Regions from separate parts of the Homo sapiens genome. Here region 1 is linked to region 2. Evidence: fine-mapped expression QTL. Tissue or cell type: pancreas. Region 2 holds a variant in brackets; the other region holds the start of a gene. All regions are shown on one strand. Distances are between the middles of the regions.

The links. PIP is the estimated chance that this variant, and not a neighbour inherited with it, causes the effect.
Region 1: ANO3 starts here. The variant in region 2 is fine-mapped to the expression of ANO3 in pancreas (GTEx, PIP above 0.99).

The regions. Positions count from the first base shown.
Region 1 is chr11:26,327,091-26,335,201 of GRCh38, reverse strand. ANO3 (anoctamin 3) reads right to left here and starts at 3,072. Exons shown (of 27, transcript NM_031418.4): 1 at 2,881-3,072. The coding sequence starts at 2,926. It overlaps LOC105376598 (a long non-coding RNA gene), which reads left to right and starts at 3,228. Exons shown (of 3, transcript XR_931138.3): 1 at 3,228-3,340; 2 at 3,567-3,682; 3 at 6,477-6,949.
Region 2 is chr11:26,466,534-26,474,644 of GRCh38, reverse strand. All of the region lies in intron 4 of ANO3 (anoctamin 3), which reads right to left. Among named protein-coding and RNA genes, the nearest start is that of MUC15, 100 kb to the left of the region's middle. The variant T/C (reference allele first, on the strand shown) is at 4,930.

The sequences.
Region 1 (8,111 bases), 140 kb after region 2:
CTGTGGCTTAGTGATATTAAATGACATAACCTGTAAGTAGAATATATTGGATTAATATCCAGGGCTCAAAATAAAGACCAGAGATTAAATTAATAAATTAGGGCTTACATACAGTATTTCATTTCCCAGATAACCAGTCTGGCATCTATACTTATCTATACTATACTTATACTTACCTATCAAAACCAATTTTGATCGGGGATTGGTTAATACATAGTTCTCATATATAAAGGAGAATCCCTATGCCTTGTGTAGAGTTTAAATATTGAGTGTGTCTGTTTTTCAATTAAGGGTGGAAACTTTAAAAATAATATAACAAGGGTGATTTCTAGTTATATCAGGCTATTTCTAGATATTTTCAAGTTGAAATCAAAATTTTTAAAAGAGACATTGAGCTCACTTGAATAAAACAAAAGTAAATTCCATCAACTGGATTTTTCAGCTAAATTAATTCGTAAAAGTAAACTAAAAGCAAGGCTCTCCTCTTTATCTGGTCACAGAAGAAATCATCTCTGCCTTCATATGCAAACCGTCCCTCCCATTAAACAGAGGAAGAGAGACAGAAAAGGCCAAAGGGATTAGGAATGTATTCTGTTCATGTTATGTATGAAGCAAAGTCCAAAGAAATTAACCACTTTGTTGAAGATTTCTCAGCTAGTAACAAACGCAAGCTTAGAACCTAGGAGTACAGAGTTCCACTACAGAATTTTCTCCATTTTAATGTGCAATTTTCAGGTTAATTTTATGGTGAAAAGCACATCTGAATGTTTTGTTGTTGTTGTTGCATACCTCCTAGGACAGATCACATCTAGAGAATTATTTTGCTTCTTCCTATTTGAAGAATAAAAATAGCTAATCCTCAATTTGGTCTGTTTTTTTCCTAATGCCCATGCAGGATTAAGAAGCCATTAACCAGAACCACTTAGCTAAAATGAATCTTGCTTCCTTCCTACCGGAGTACTCCTCCTCTAGATTTGTATCCTTTTGCTGAAGTTGCCTTTTGTGCCAAAGAGTAAAGGAAGACTTGAAATTAAATGGCTCATAATGCATCATAAAGGAAACAATGTGAAATGCCAGCAATTGCACAATTTCTTATCACTCTCTTTGAGCAATGACGGTCGGACCTACAGTTGTCAATTATTTCCTTCTTAAAAACACAACATGTATCCATACATAATACATTGTTGTGGGGGCCATTTGAAGCTTCCAGATCCCAGAAATGAGTCACCCATAGCCAATGCATCAGTGGAGGTATTTATTCTGTGAGGCTGTTGCAAAGTTCCTATCATCTTTGTCTTCATTCTGAAAGTTTATGTATGTTTAAAACCATGATTAAAGAGAACACAACTTCTTGAAGCAGTTTAACTTTATTTGAAATGTTTAGAGTTGAAGTAGAAGTGCATACTAGGTGAAATTTTTGTCTACCCCTACAGTCTCACACATCACTCCCAATTTCAACATATATTTGAAACATCCTAGAGAACTTGGGCTTGAACTGAGTACAGAATTATGGAACTGGAAACTCAGTCAGTCCCATATTCTGTCTTACGCAGGAATCCCTTCGAAATTGTTTCTTGTGTGTTAATCTAGTTTTTGTTAAAAACAAACAAAAAAGTCAAGGGCCGGGTACAGTGGCTCACACCTGTAATCCCAGCACTTTGGGAGGCTAAGGCGGGCGGATCACGAGGTCAGGAGATGGAGGCCATCCTGGCTAATACGGTGAAACCCCGTCTCTACTAAAAACACAAAAAAATTAGCTGGGCTTGGTGGCGGGCGCCTGTAGTCCCAGCTACTCAGGAGGCTGAGGCAGGATAATGGCATGAACCTGGGATGCAGAGCTTGCAGTGAGCCGAGATCGCGCCACTGCACTCCAGCCTGGGCAACAGAGCGAGACTCCACCTCAAAAAAAAAAAAAAAGTCAAAGAGCTACATAAAAACAACTGTTGATGAAAGAAATACAAATAATATCTGGAGGGTGGGGATGAGAATATTTAAGTAAATATTTACTTTGAATGAACAAATTCAGCATTCCAGAATTCACACATCTAAGGCACTCTATGGTTAACTGTATCATAATTACCATTATTAATTCAGCAAAGTGGCAATTGTGTTAATTAATGCTTCTGGATAATAAAACTCCAAAAACTGTGAATGTGCCTCAAAATAAAAATGCTCTGTAAAAAGCCTTTTAAACCAAATAAGAAACAAAGATCAAAGAGTGAGGATAACTTGAACATACAGATTCTTGTCACTATGCCCAGCAAGAAACTTGAGGGAGAAACTAAAAGACATAATACGAAGCCCCTAGAAGAGAAACCTAACCTCAAGAACTTGAAACCCAGAATCAAGCATGGGACATGGGCAAACAATAAATTTTCCCAAGGAAGTGACAGAGCCCCTTTAACTGCAACAGGCCAACTCTGGAACTCCCCCAAGAATTCATTTATCTTATGATTGTGTAAATGCGTCTCAAGGAGTAGACACACTTTTGTGAAGATTACTCAACATTTGAACCACAGAAGACGGCAGATATTGTTGAACATTTCTGTCCTCACCCCTCAGAGCTCTACTGAGCTATTCGGACAATCCCTACTAAGCGGGTTTACTGCAGTGCATTGAAACAGTCTTCACAGAGATATACATTAAGTCAAGTCCTGAAATGACGAATTCCGATACTCCCAGGCACTGTGCGGAGGCTCAGAAAATCACTCATCTAGGATGCAGAGTGAAGAGGAATTTAATTTTTTTTTTTTTTTTAACTTCACAGAGTTCCCCACCTCTGTGTCGCATAAGCCTGCAAAGGATGCTCCTACACAACTGCAAGGGCATGCAGGGGGGAAGTGACGCCCGCAGGGAGAGGGGAGCAAGATTCCAACTGACCTTTTTGCTGTTTAAAGGACTGAATGGAGCCTGAATGGTGGACCATTTTCACTCTGCGCGTCCCAGCCGGCTTAGGGAGCTGCCCGAGAGGGAGGCGGAGGAACAGTAGCCAGACTCTAGACGCTCCAAGGTCCGGAGCCTCAGCGAGCGCACTGCAATCCGACACCTGCTGTAGCCGGCACTTCGCTCTCCAGGCTACGCGCCCGCCGGTGTCGTTGTCATGGGAACGCGGGAGGGCGGTCTAGCGTCCGGCTCCCCTTAGCGGCTACTCTGGGAACAACCCCGCATCCCCCGCGCGTCCAGTGCCACAGTGAGGGGTGGGCGTTGAGCGGGGTTGGCTGGGAGTGGGAGCAGAAGACTTTACTGGAGGAGGAGATATAAATCGGAGCAAACCTCTAGAGCTGATACTGATGCCCTCTTTGCCAAGCTTTGAGGCTGGTTATTTATTTCCTAAAAGTTGGTAGGTAAACCCTGGGACTTTTAAGGAAGGGCAAAGTTGGTCTGTGCTCTGAGAGGGTATGCAGTGGCAGATGCAGAGACGTTTCTGTTTTTCTTTCTTAAATTTAAGTAGAGGGGGCAGAAAGCCACCCCAGCTTAGTTAGCCAGTAGCATGTTTTATTAGGTAAGCTGTGTTCTATGTCTAGCACTTTTCACTTGAGTTTTCCTCTTCTTCTTCTGCCATTCAGGCCTTGAATCATTTATGATGATGATGACTGAGGACCATTTATAACCTACTTAGTCACAGGGGCTGAAAAAACACTACCCACGATGCTCGATTTAATCTTCATAAAAGCCCTGTAATGTAGGTAAACTATGATTCTAATATTATAAAAAGAAACTTAAGATCAGAGCAACAAAGATTTCTCAAGACCACATAAATCAACACCTTATTTGAAAGAGAAGGCACCCGATACCCAAAGAAGTGAAGTAACTCTTTTTGTTTAGTTTGAGAAGTTTTATTTTATTATTTATTTATATCTTCACCATGTATTTTAAGTTCGTGGTACATGTGCAGGATGCGCAGGTTTGTTACATAGGTAAACGTATGCCATGGTGGTTTGCTGCACAGATCACCCCATCACCCGGGTATTGAGCCCAGCAGCCATTAGCTATTGTTCCTAATGCTCTCCCTCCCCCTCCAACAGGCCCCAGTGTGTGTTGTTCCCCCATTGTGTCCGTGTGTTCTCATCATTCAGCTCCCACTTTGAAGTAACTTTTGAAAGACCAAACTGCAGTGGCCAAAATAGGACCAGAAGCTAGCTGAACACATTTTTCAGTAGGATCTCCTTTCCTCCATCTATCTCTGCTCCCTGATTCAAAGCCCTAAGTTCTTCCTGGAAGATGTAAGATGTTATTGAACAGACACATCGTGAGAGTCCGTTGCTTCCTCAGTTTTGAAGTTTTATGGAATCAACTCAGAATCAGGTGAATAATCCAAATAAAAGCAGATAAAAAATATGCAGAAATTTCCAAACTTTCGATACCTCAAAAATATTGAGTTATTATTGTATGCTGTTTGATTCATCTGTGGTGCATGATACAAAAGAATGAGGGGAATATAGCTTTGAACAAACAGATGCTCCAATTATTTATGGATGCATAACAAACTACCCTGAAACTAAGCTGTAAACTAAAATTTATTATTATTACTTATGGATTTTGCAGGTGGGCTAGATTCAGACAGGCAGTTATCTCTCAGAGTCTCTCTTGATTGTTCAGTAACTGGTCTTAAAGTCATCTGAAGCAAAAAGCGAAATTGGATTCTACTCTCAGTGGGAGGAAGAGCAAACAATGTGCTACCTTCTTTAATGTATCATAATGGTCTTTCCAGAAAGAAATGCTGAGCATTCAATAAGAGCTCAGTATGCAGGCATTGAAGAAATACTTGGTTACAGACAATGAACTCAGTGTGAGTTCACCTCCAAATGAAGATCTAAAACACAGTTCAGAGACTGTCTCCGTAAGGGCTTTTAATACAGATATTGTATAGATGAGGGCATTGAAACCGAGAAGAATAAATGACTTGCTCGAGGATGTTTTTTTTAAATTTTGTTCATCCAGAGTTAAAATTCTGATAGAACTCAGCTTACAGATCATTCTGATGTGAACCAACTCATTGATTCTAATGCAACCCAATTCTCCTACGTGAGGATTAGACAATGAATTTAAGAATGGCAGAAAACTAACACCCAATACTTACTAGTCAGTTATGACCCCTGTAGATCTCATTTAAATGTTTAAAACCCCCTTTTAAATCACCGGTTTTAGAATCAGAAATATTTTTGAAATTTAAACTTTAATTCAATCCCTGGTCAGCAGGACTAGTTAAAAGAATTAAAGTCCCCTCGCCGGGCGGTGGCGGGCGCCTGTAGTCCCAGCTACTCAGGAGGCTGAGGCAGGAGAATGGCTTGAACCCGGGAGGCGGAGCTTGCGGTGAGCCTAGATCGCACCACCGCACTCCAGCCTGGGAAACAGAGCGAGACTCCGTCTCAAAAAAAAAAAAAAAAAATTTAAGTCCCTCTATTCCACATTTCTAGGCACAGGTATCACCTTTACCTTCCTAAGATCTTTTTCTGTTGATCCCTGATTTTCTCCAACCTACTCCCTGATCCAAAACCCAGCAGGAGGCAAATATGTATCTGCCAGAACTAGAAATGAGTTGAGATTTTGAACCTCATTGGATTTTTTTCCAAGGAAAGAATGTTTGTTATTATTTCTAACACCCTTGCACCCTAACCTCCTTGGTGCAGCTATGATTAAACTATCTTGTCATAAAGTTAATTACTTTTCTTAAAATTAGAAACATTTTAGGTTGGACTGCCAGATTGACTAGCAGGGGATTCAAAGAACATCTTTGCTTGTTTTAAAATCAGTCTTTTAGGGGAGGTTGCTAGAGGAACAGCTTTGTGAGGGGCCGAGGAAATTTGAAGCACCATCTGCTTTATAGAAAGGCAGTGCAAAGAGAAAAAGATTCCTCTCTCTCTCTCTCTCTCTGTGTGTGTGTGTGTGTGTGTGTGTGTGTGTGTAAAGAAAGAAAGTACGTTTTGGAAGTGTAGAAAGAAGAGTTTGAGCAAAAGCCCTCTTTTTTAACTCAAAATAAAAATTCTGTGTTGGGGTAAAAGGAAGCATTTTGATGGACTGACATTTCCATTGTGGACAGTTTAAGAATGGATAGCAAGTAGCCTCATTAAGGAAAGCTAAGCTAACTATGAACTATGTTGGGTTGCTTTTTCCTACTATTTTTAGCTTCAAACATTTTTCTCCAAATTTTAATGACATGCAAAATGTGTATTTTATATAATGTTTAGTGAGGGGGCATGATTAATGTATAATACACAGTACAGTCTTGACTCTGTTTTCCAAAGTAGAAAAAAAAAGCCTAGAAATAAACATGCGAAAATGTCTGGAGTAATCATGCTTGCAAGTTGAGTAAAGGGTAATATTTTTTATACTTTCATATATTTTTATCATTTTCATACTTTATCAATGATATGTGTTGATTTTATCCTTATTACATGCATAGATCTTCAACCCCCCTACCCATATACCTGTCTTGCTACAACTTCAATTTTTCTCTTTTTTCTCTTTGGACCTAGGGTTTCGTTCCCCTTCATGTTTCTGCTGCTCTTGCTCCCCACAACTCACAACCTGTCTCCTGTCCTCCTTAAGTAATTAACTTTGCAGCCCCCCTGCTAACATTTGCTCCCCAGAGAGGTAAGAAACTCTGATGTTTACATCACTGGGAGACTTTTTATTCCTTTGAATTTCGAAATAGGTCCCTCAGCTCAGCCAGTTGTGAGTTTCTCTGTATTGTGCTCTGTCAAAGGGACTGAGAGAGTCCTGTTTCTGCCTCTTTGGGTCATGAATCACTGCCTTAATTAAAATTGGAATTGTGAATGATACTTCTCATTGCCTAAATGGTAACAGAAATGGAAAAGCAGTACTTTCCTGCTTCTAGTTTCTCTCCGTATATTAAAGACAAAAACCAGCTCTGTAAAAAAGTCATATACTATCATAAAAGGAAAAATGGAGTGAAATTTAACAATTTTCTCCCTAAAAGCCTATGGTTTCTGGCCACATGTGACAGTATAACAGCAGAATTAAGTAGATTCATCCTGATGATATCCAGGCTATATGCTCCGAGTAGCATTCAGAAGTAGTACTACTGATGGGTGTGTCTAAGATAAAGTCATGGAGGAAAATCAGCAGCCTCAACCTTCTCTGAGTCCAGCCTTAAGAAGTCTTACAAAACAGAATTTTAAAAAAATTAATTCTCAAGTGCTTGGAGCACATGGCATTTTGAAGAGACAGGAACACAAAATGATTTGTGTAAGAAGACAGCATCAAGAGAAGGGAGATGTGTGGGACAAAGGAGGTGATGATGGGTTAAACAGCAGTTCATATCTTAGAACCCTGCTGAAAATCTGAATAATTATTTCAAGTTGCCTATAGGATTAAATCCATGTTGTTTAATCTGTCATCAGCTACCTTGTCCCATACATCCTGTGGATATGTTTGTTGCCTTGATTGTAGTGATTGCATGACAGGTGTTTGCATATGTTCAAACTCATCGTACATTAAGTATGTGCAGTTCTTTGTATATCAATCATACTTCAATAATGTTATTAAAAATAGACAATTTAATTTATTTAAACAAAAATCATCAAGTCCATGTTCACTGCTTTACCATTCAAGGGGCTCCATATTTTCTTGCAGCACTTTCCAATATTGTTTCAAAGACCCTTTTACAAACTCTTTTAATCCTATATTGCTTTCTTCCTTATTGGTCTGCTTTTGCTGCTGCTGCTGCTGTTTTCTCCACTGGGAATGATTGTCCTAAAACTCCTTCAGGGAGCAATGACATTTCTTGTATGAAGATATATTTTATCCACATCTACATCTACTGAGTACAAAGCCAGTTAGATGTAGATTTAGCCTTCTCCAATTTCCATCGAGCATGAATAACATCACTTAATGGCATTTTCATAATGTTTCTACCATGCATTATACATGTATGCTTTTGAAAGTAGGCGCATACTTTTCTACCAGTCAAGAAGAAATCCTTTAAAATAGACTTCAGGTTGACTCACTTTTCTATTTGTCATGGTGCCGAAAAGATGATTGACACATAAAAGCTGAGCAAATAAATATTTGCTGAATGAATGGCTTTCCATAATCCTCAACTACTCTTTATTATTTGTGAAAGTAATCTAGTAATAAGACATTCAAAC
Region 2 (8,111 bases):
GGTTGAAAACATTTTGTTCCCTAGCTTACATCATAGTGAACTTCGTACCTGATGTGATTTATTTATTTTAACATTTAACACTATGAGATATGCTCCTTTAAGTTCAGATGTTTTTCTGACTTTCTATTTTGATGAAAACCAGTTAAAAATATTGTATAAAATTATTAAGAAAAATTGAAAATATTTTAAAGGTAAATATATTTTATGTTTTTGAATAAAAAACCATTTTAGAGTAGATGCTGTAATTATTTCAATGAAATCAATAAATACATTCAAAAAGACAAAACTTCAGAGGTGATATTTGGTTTACATGCAAGATAAACACAGATATTTTAAAAATAACACATTTAGATCATACTTTACTTTAAAATATATATCTAGTATTTTGAAATAACAGATACACTCAATTCCAATTCTGAAATCAATATTAATTTCTCTCAATTGGCTTCTCTACATATGTTTAAGAAAATAGAAAAATAGTATAGAATTCCTAGATTGATGCACTTTTAAACATACCACAGTCAGAATTCTGAGTTCAGCTGCATTTGGAATCCTTCATTGCTGACAACAGTCTCAAATGACAATCTTCTTTAAAGCACTCTTCAGTGTGACAACTGAAAGTTCTCCCTTTCACCGCCTGCTTTTTCCATTAACTAGAATGTTACATACTGAGTGCTACACAAAGCATTTGACTGGAGGGTTTTTAGCCTACTCTCTAAATGCCAGAGTTTGAATAATCATTTTTTTTTAAAGATAACTCATCTCTTTATAAGAACATCTGTATTTTTTATTAATTTCATTTTAGGAGTTGGTTATAGGGTGGAATAGGGGGCTGCTTTCATGTGTCATTGGTTAATGTCTATGCATGAGTCACCTAAGTGACATTTAATCATATAACGTCAGTGACATTTTTATGATTTTACTGTCAATTATTAATAATCTATTGTATGTGCCATTTGAGCTGGGCAGATTAACATGGGAGGTGGGAGGTGTGTTTCAGTTTGATAATAGTGGTCTGGAAAATACTAACTTTTTAAACGGTGAACTAGGTAACACTTTTTTGATAGCGGAGTGGAGTTCACCAGGAATTCCTGTAATTTTTTTTTCTGGTTTTAAAGGAAATTGCCTCATTTTCTTGTTCACTGGAGAAAGGTATAATGGAAAGCTTTGTGGTTTCTGAAAAATCCTGCCTGTGTTCAACTTGACATTGCATTGTATTGTCTCTGAGCTGCACATAATGATATGATTGTAATCTGAGAGCACAGGAATTAACTGTCACCTAAAGGTAAACAAGCAAATAAAATTGAATGCTTTTGTCCTCATTTACTTAACATCCACATAAGAGATGCAACAGAGGATTACATTTATTTCTGTTTTAAAAATGCCTCTGTAGGGCAGCTTGTAATTGGAACTGACAAGACACTGAACCTAAGAAGTAACCACTTAATGTATATGGTCTTGAGTTAATAAGCATGCTTTAAAATTGATTTTCTAGCAGGTTCAAGAAATAGAAAAAATAACTTCACACAATGTTTGAAACAGTTAAAGAACAAATGGTATATTACTCTAATATGTAGGTTTAAATTGTCTGTGGCATGAAGGGATTAATGAAAGCAAATGGGTTTCCGTGACTGAAACCCTCATCTGGAATCCTGGTTTGCATCATGCAAGAAGTCAACCACCACAAACAAAACAAGAATTAGTTTTTTAAAACAGAAGTGTCAGAAACTATTCAGTAAACACAACAGTGCTTTATTCTGTAGGTATTTTCTTCTCTACAGTGATAATTCCTCAAAATATTCATATTTTGATTGACTGGTGAGGTTAAGAAGGCTGTGTGCGGAAATACATGGAGAAAGATGACATGGGGAGATGAAGGGCTATAAGCCGCAAGCTAGGGACAAGTGTTTTAAAATTTATCAGGATCTAACTAAGCACAGGAGCCTCAATTTTATTATATTTTCTTAAGTATAAAACATTGAAAAAACCCACAATATTCATGCTGCCTAATAAACATAATTTTCCAGTAATGTGAACATGACCCCTAACTACCCAATTCACTTGTCTCATGGTTTCTATAGTCCCTTGCACACACCTCCATTACGTGCAGTGTAGCACAGTGCTTGACAGCATGGTCCCTGTATATAATTCCTGCCTCCTCCTTACCAGCTGTGTGATAACAGGAAAGTTACGTAGCCATCTAAGCCTTCATTTCCTCACCTATGAAATGGGGGTAAAAATAGACCTTACATTTTAGAGTTGTGATGATAGAAAAGTAGAAGTCATTAAAATCCCTGTTAAGATCCCTGGTAAATGTTAGCTGTTGTAATCATTTAACATTATTATTATTAATATTGAAACTTCCAATCCAGTGTTCACAGCCTGGAGGGCTTGGAGGTGACAGATTAAGGAGGTAGATTTGACTTTCAGTATGCTCAAATAACACGGTTTCTGATCTGTCTTCTCTGGCTGCTTTCATGTCTGAACAACTAGAGAACTATTTGATTTGAGCCTGTGATTGATTGAATGTTTAAATATCAAGTAGAACCATTATCTGCACCATTTAACTGGAATGCCCATACATTAATTTATTGAATTTACTTTCACATCCCATCAAACTATGTATACTTTTTTTGCAGAGAAGTTATTGCAGCTCTCATTTTAGAGCTAACATCCTTCAGGGAGGCTTAGGAGATATATCTTCCAAAATAAATTCTTAAGTACTCATGGGAAAAACAAATTGGTGATTCGAGAAACCTCTATGTGTTTAATTACTGAGACATTAGTGTCAGGGGAGAGAAAACACCTTTGACTTATTTTTTGTTTCTTTGTATCATATATGAAATACGACTTCCTAAATAGGCACATTTTTTTCCCCTTATAGTCTTTCTGGGAACTAAAGGCATCTACCCCAACAAATCCATCTCTCACCTAATTTCATTCTCTCAGGTAAATCGTCTCATGTCATGACTTCCTAGCCCTCTGCTATAGACATATTGCAGCTCTACACACAACTGTTGGCAGCTGTAGGAGCTTTTGTGCAGTTTTATTTGTTTTGTGATGGTGGTGGTGTTGCTGCTTATTTCATATTTTGATTGGTAAGGGGAGTTCCCATACTGTAATAGATTCAGTTGAAAATATTTAGTCTACTTATTATTATTTGATCCTAAGGAATAGAAACTTTCTATTATTTGACTACTTTTGTTGAGGTTTAGTGATATTATATTTGTAACAAATTATCTATTTTTACTTAGGGGTTTGTTGATACAAGAATAAATTACAAACAGGTCAATCTAGTTACAGGAGGTTGTAAATTAGCCACACAATTTAGAGCTGCCTTACTTCAGAGTAATGTTTCAGGGTTTTGGAAAGAGATAAATCTGAGAGTATATCTCAGAGATTGAACTGGACACAGAAAAGCCGAGTCTACAGTTAAAGAGACACACCACAGTGCAGCTCTGGTTCCACCTAGCTTACAGACTTGGGCAATAAACGTTTCTGTTAATTCCTTATTTTCTTGTTTGTCAAAATGAGAGTATTACTACCTAATGTCATTGAATTATTGTGAAACTTAAATTAGATAATGTATATAAAGTGCTTACCACAGCTTCTGGTGCAAAAGTGATCAGTGCATATTAGGACAAAGAAACTGAAATGCTTCTTACCATGGTTATTGGGCTAAAAAAGGTGAAGTCCTGAATGGCTATTGTCATGCCAGTGTAACAAAATGGAAAAACTGTTTGGAAAACAAGACTATCTTATTTTAAATCCTGGCTCAGTCATTTATTAGCTGTATGAGATTGTAAAAAGGTAATGATATTATAATATTTATGGCTTAAATCTATGAATACTTAAGTTTTATGTCCTTTGAATTTTACCACCCGGTGTTAAAAACTATAAACATCTCTTGTATATCATTCTAAATATTTTCCCCATGAAAACCAGCTAGATATTTTTATAGAATTGGCATTATACTGCACATTTTTTTACAGCCACTTTATTATATAATTATACACTGTGATCATGTCCTATTATCCTTAAATAGTTTAGAGATTTTCAACATAGTACTGCCTTGTCTGAGGGCATTACGAATTACTATTTTAAATGTTATCATTTACTCTTGACTCTGGAAGTGGTCCTCCCCCACCACAAATTACAATGTGAGAAACATTCTTAAACAGAATTATTTGGGCTAACTTCTTGCTTTTTTTTTTTTCTGTTTTTTTTTTGAGAGGGTCTCCCTCTCTCTCTCTCTCTCAGGTTGGAATGCAGTTGTATAACCATGGCTCACTGTAGCCTCCACCTCTCAGGCTCAAGTGATCCTCCTGCCTCAGTCTCCCGAGTAGTTGGGACTACAGGTATGTGCCACCATACCCGGATCATTTTTGTATTTTTTCTGTAGAAACAGGGTTTCACTGTGTATCTCAGCCTGTTCTCAAACTCCTGGGCTCACACTCCAGATTACTTATCTGCCCTCCTCAGCCTCCCAAAGTGCTGGGATTATAGGCATGAGCTACCACACCCAGAAATTTGGCTAACTTCTAATTGCATTCTCTGCATAAATTCCTAGAACTAATCAAAGGGCAAAATTACCTTTAGGTACTGAACCTTCCTTGTGAAATTGTTTTCCAGAAAATTTGGCTCAATGTACATATTGGCCAGCAAGGAATAAAAATGATAGCTTATAGTTTAAAAGTACAACAAAACCTAATACTGATATAAACAATTTCTAATTTCAAAAAACATTGCTTACATTTGTATTTCTGTAATTAATAGTACAGCTGATCGTTATATATGTTAAAATTACATTGCTTTTCAATTTATTTCATTCTTACATTATAAATTACATTATAATATCTGTGTGAATTAAGAATATTAGCCATTCTTCTGGCATATATATATTTTCCAGTATGTGAGCTGATCACCACA[T/C]CTTAAGCTTGTCTCTTTTTGATTTTATCAGAATTTTGACACTGATATATTTAGTATCTAAATAGTAAGTCTATCCATGCTTAATTTTATCACTGATTTTAAAAGTCCACTTAAAAAGGCCATTTTTCTATTCTGTCATTAGAAAAATTGTTTATTTTTGTTTTGCTTTGTTTTCAATATATTCAGTTTGAGTATACCTCTTTAGCTCTTCAGTAATTCATTTGTTATGTGAGATGTCGTCTAAGAATATTTTAACTCTTTCCAAATAATTGACTAGTTGTTGTGAGAACATTTGAATGTTTTTAAATGATTAATATTTATTTCCTGATGTGAAATGCTACCTTTATCATAACATATACACCACTCCCTCACATGCGCCTGCACACACACATACATGCACACACCCAGGTTTAAGCAGTCTACAGAAAATTTGAAGCAACTCTGAAAACTCTTGTACTAAATCTTTTGGAAAATTTACACTAGCAATCAGCTAATGTAGAACAAGTCTTCACCATTTACTTAGAGAGGTTTCCGAGGGTCAAACTAAGTACTTAAATGGCACAAGGAAGGGAGATTCCTTTTAGGGTTGCAGGGAGGATAATGCCTTTTCAGTATTTCAGAGAATACAAAGACTCTGAAAACAGGACGAGATTACTTTGGACTGATTGAAAAGGAGACTTCTTAATGTTAGGTAAGAAGAGACATTTAAAAACATGGACAAAAAGATTAATAAGCCAAGGTGATTTTCTGTGTAACCCATGTTTTATATGAAAATTAAATATTTAGGATACCACTTAATAATATAAATAAAAGGTTACTTCAGGTACTAAAGTTAAATGAATATTAATATTTTCTTTAGAAACTGACTATCCCAAAAAGAAGTAAAATTTATTCTCTTAGTATTTCATGTATAATCTTGTCCATTAAAGCAGCCATATAGAGCCAAGTTAGTCATTCATCTTGTAGTTTGTCATCACCATCTCACAATATCTGGACAAAAATAGGAAGTAGCACATTCAGAATACTAAGTCCTATACACAATTTGAGGCAAAGAGCCATTTAGGCAAATGAAATAGTTCCTGACATCCACATAAAAGGTATGCTGTAGAAGACTACAAAAGCTATCTCTTTCTCACCTTCTCCATCATATGACCAGTGTCTCCAGTCCTAGAGAAAATTATTTCTAATACTCATTGAGATAAAGATGAGTACCATCTGCCAATGCCAGTTGACACAAAGTGAATGGCCTTGTGATCTAATTTTAATGAACTGCTAAAATATTCATGTCCAGATTTTCCTTGTCTATAACCTTCTTCCTGTTTGATTTGATACCCAATATCCTTTCAAAGGTGAAGTCACTGTAACTGAAAAATAGATTAATATTCTCAGACTCATTAATGGCAATATCTGTAGTTAATTTGGGCATCGTAAGTGACAGTGGTGGACCCGTGAAATATCCCAGCTGAGACCGAAAGAGCTACGCAGCTGAGCTTCACTAATGCCCACTACGGATGCCATGGATTCTTTACCGTAGGCTTATTCCTGCTAACCTAGATTAACTATAGATAATCCCTGTAAATTGACCACATCTAGAGGCCTCAGCTGGTATGTGGGATGTGGCTCCTTGGTGGAGAGAGGGATTCTAGTTTTGAGGATCACACAGTTTGGTGGTAGGACCTCATTATCTTCAAATGTTGTTCTCAGTGTTCTCCATATTCATGAAACAAGAAAAGACGATATTTACCCAAACCATCTTAAAAAGAATCCCCCTCATTTGCTCTAGAACTTTGCTTGCAGTCAGGCCAGGTCCTTCAGTCTATGGATTTTTGGGAATGTTCCTTTCCTTTCATTACAAAATGCTTCCTTAAATTGCTTAGCCACATAGGGATGAAAAAGCCTTTTGTCAAGAGGTAAGACAGAAAGTAAATTGGTCTTAAAGAAAAGTTTTATAAAAGAAATATCTGCACTCCCATATTTATTGCAACAGTATTCACAACAGCCAAGACTTGGAAGCAACCCAAGTGTCCATCAACAGGCGAATGGATAAAAAAAAAAAAAGTGGAACATATACACAATGGAGTACTATTCAGCCATAAAAGAATGAGACCCTGTCATTTGCAACACTATGGATGGAACTGGAGGTCATTATGCTAAAGGAAATCAGTCAGGCACAGAAAGACAGACTTTTCATCTTCTCACTTATTTGTGAGAGCTAAAAATTAAAACAATTAACTCAGAGATAGAAAGTAGAATGATGATTACCAGGGTTTGGGAAATGTAGGGCAAGGGGAGAGGGGATGATTAAATGGGCACAAAAAATATTTTGAAAGAAGGAATAAGATCTATTATCTGATAGCACAATAGGGTGACTATAGTCAATACTGATTTACTTGTACATTTTAAAGAGTATAATTGGATTGCTTGTAACACAAAGGATAAATGCGTGAGGTGATGGATACCTCATTTATCCCAATGTAATTATTATATTTTGTATGCCTGTATCAATATATCCCATATACCTCATAAATATATACATTTACTCTGTACCCAGAAAAATTAAACTGTTTAAAACATTGCATGTTTGTGACTGCTGTTAACTATAAACACATTTTGATTAATAGTAATCTTGGAATTTTACCTTGATTTAATGTTTTCACAAGGAAGGCACTTTTGTAAATAGAGTTTTTAAAAAAAACAATTTTAGAAAGTTTTAGATAGGTTGCTTAAATACCATGTGATTTCAGTTATGCTATTTAAAATATACTTGGGCTCCATAGAATTAAATGCATGCTGTGAATATGCTGTGTCAAACTCTGCGACAATTTTGCAAATCTTCCTAGACACTGAGGAAGAATTAACTTCATATTAACAATCATTGGTATTAGCCAATGTGTTATTCTTTAACATTTGTGGTTGTCTCCATTATCTCTTGCAGAGAGACAAACCATCCCCAAACAACTCTTTGGCTCATGATTCTGTGCACAGGCTGGACTCAGCGGGGTAGCTCTTCTGGTCTCAGTTGCGATTTTTCATAGGTCTGATTTTCCTGGCCTTTGCTGTTGGATTCTCTCATCTCTCTCTGCCTCATTTGGGGCAACTGTGCTTATGAGCCTCTGGTCCCTGTGGTCTCTTCTCCTCCTCAAGACTAGCTCTGACTTATTCACATGGTAAAGGGAGAATCC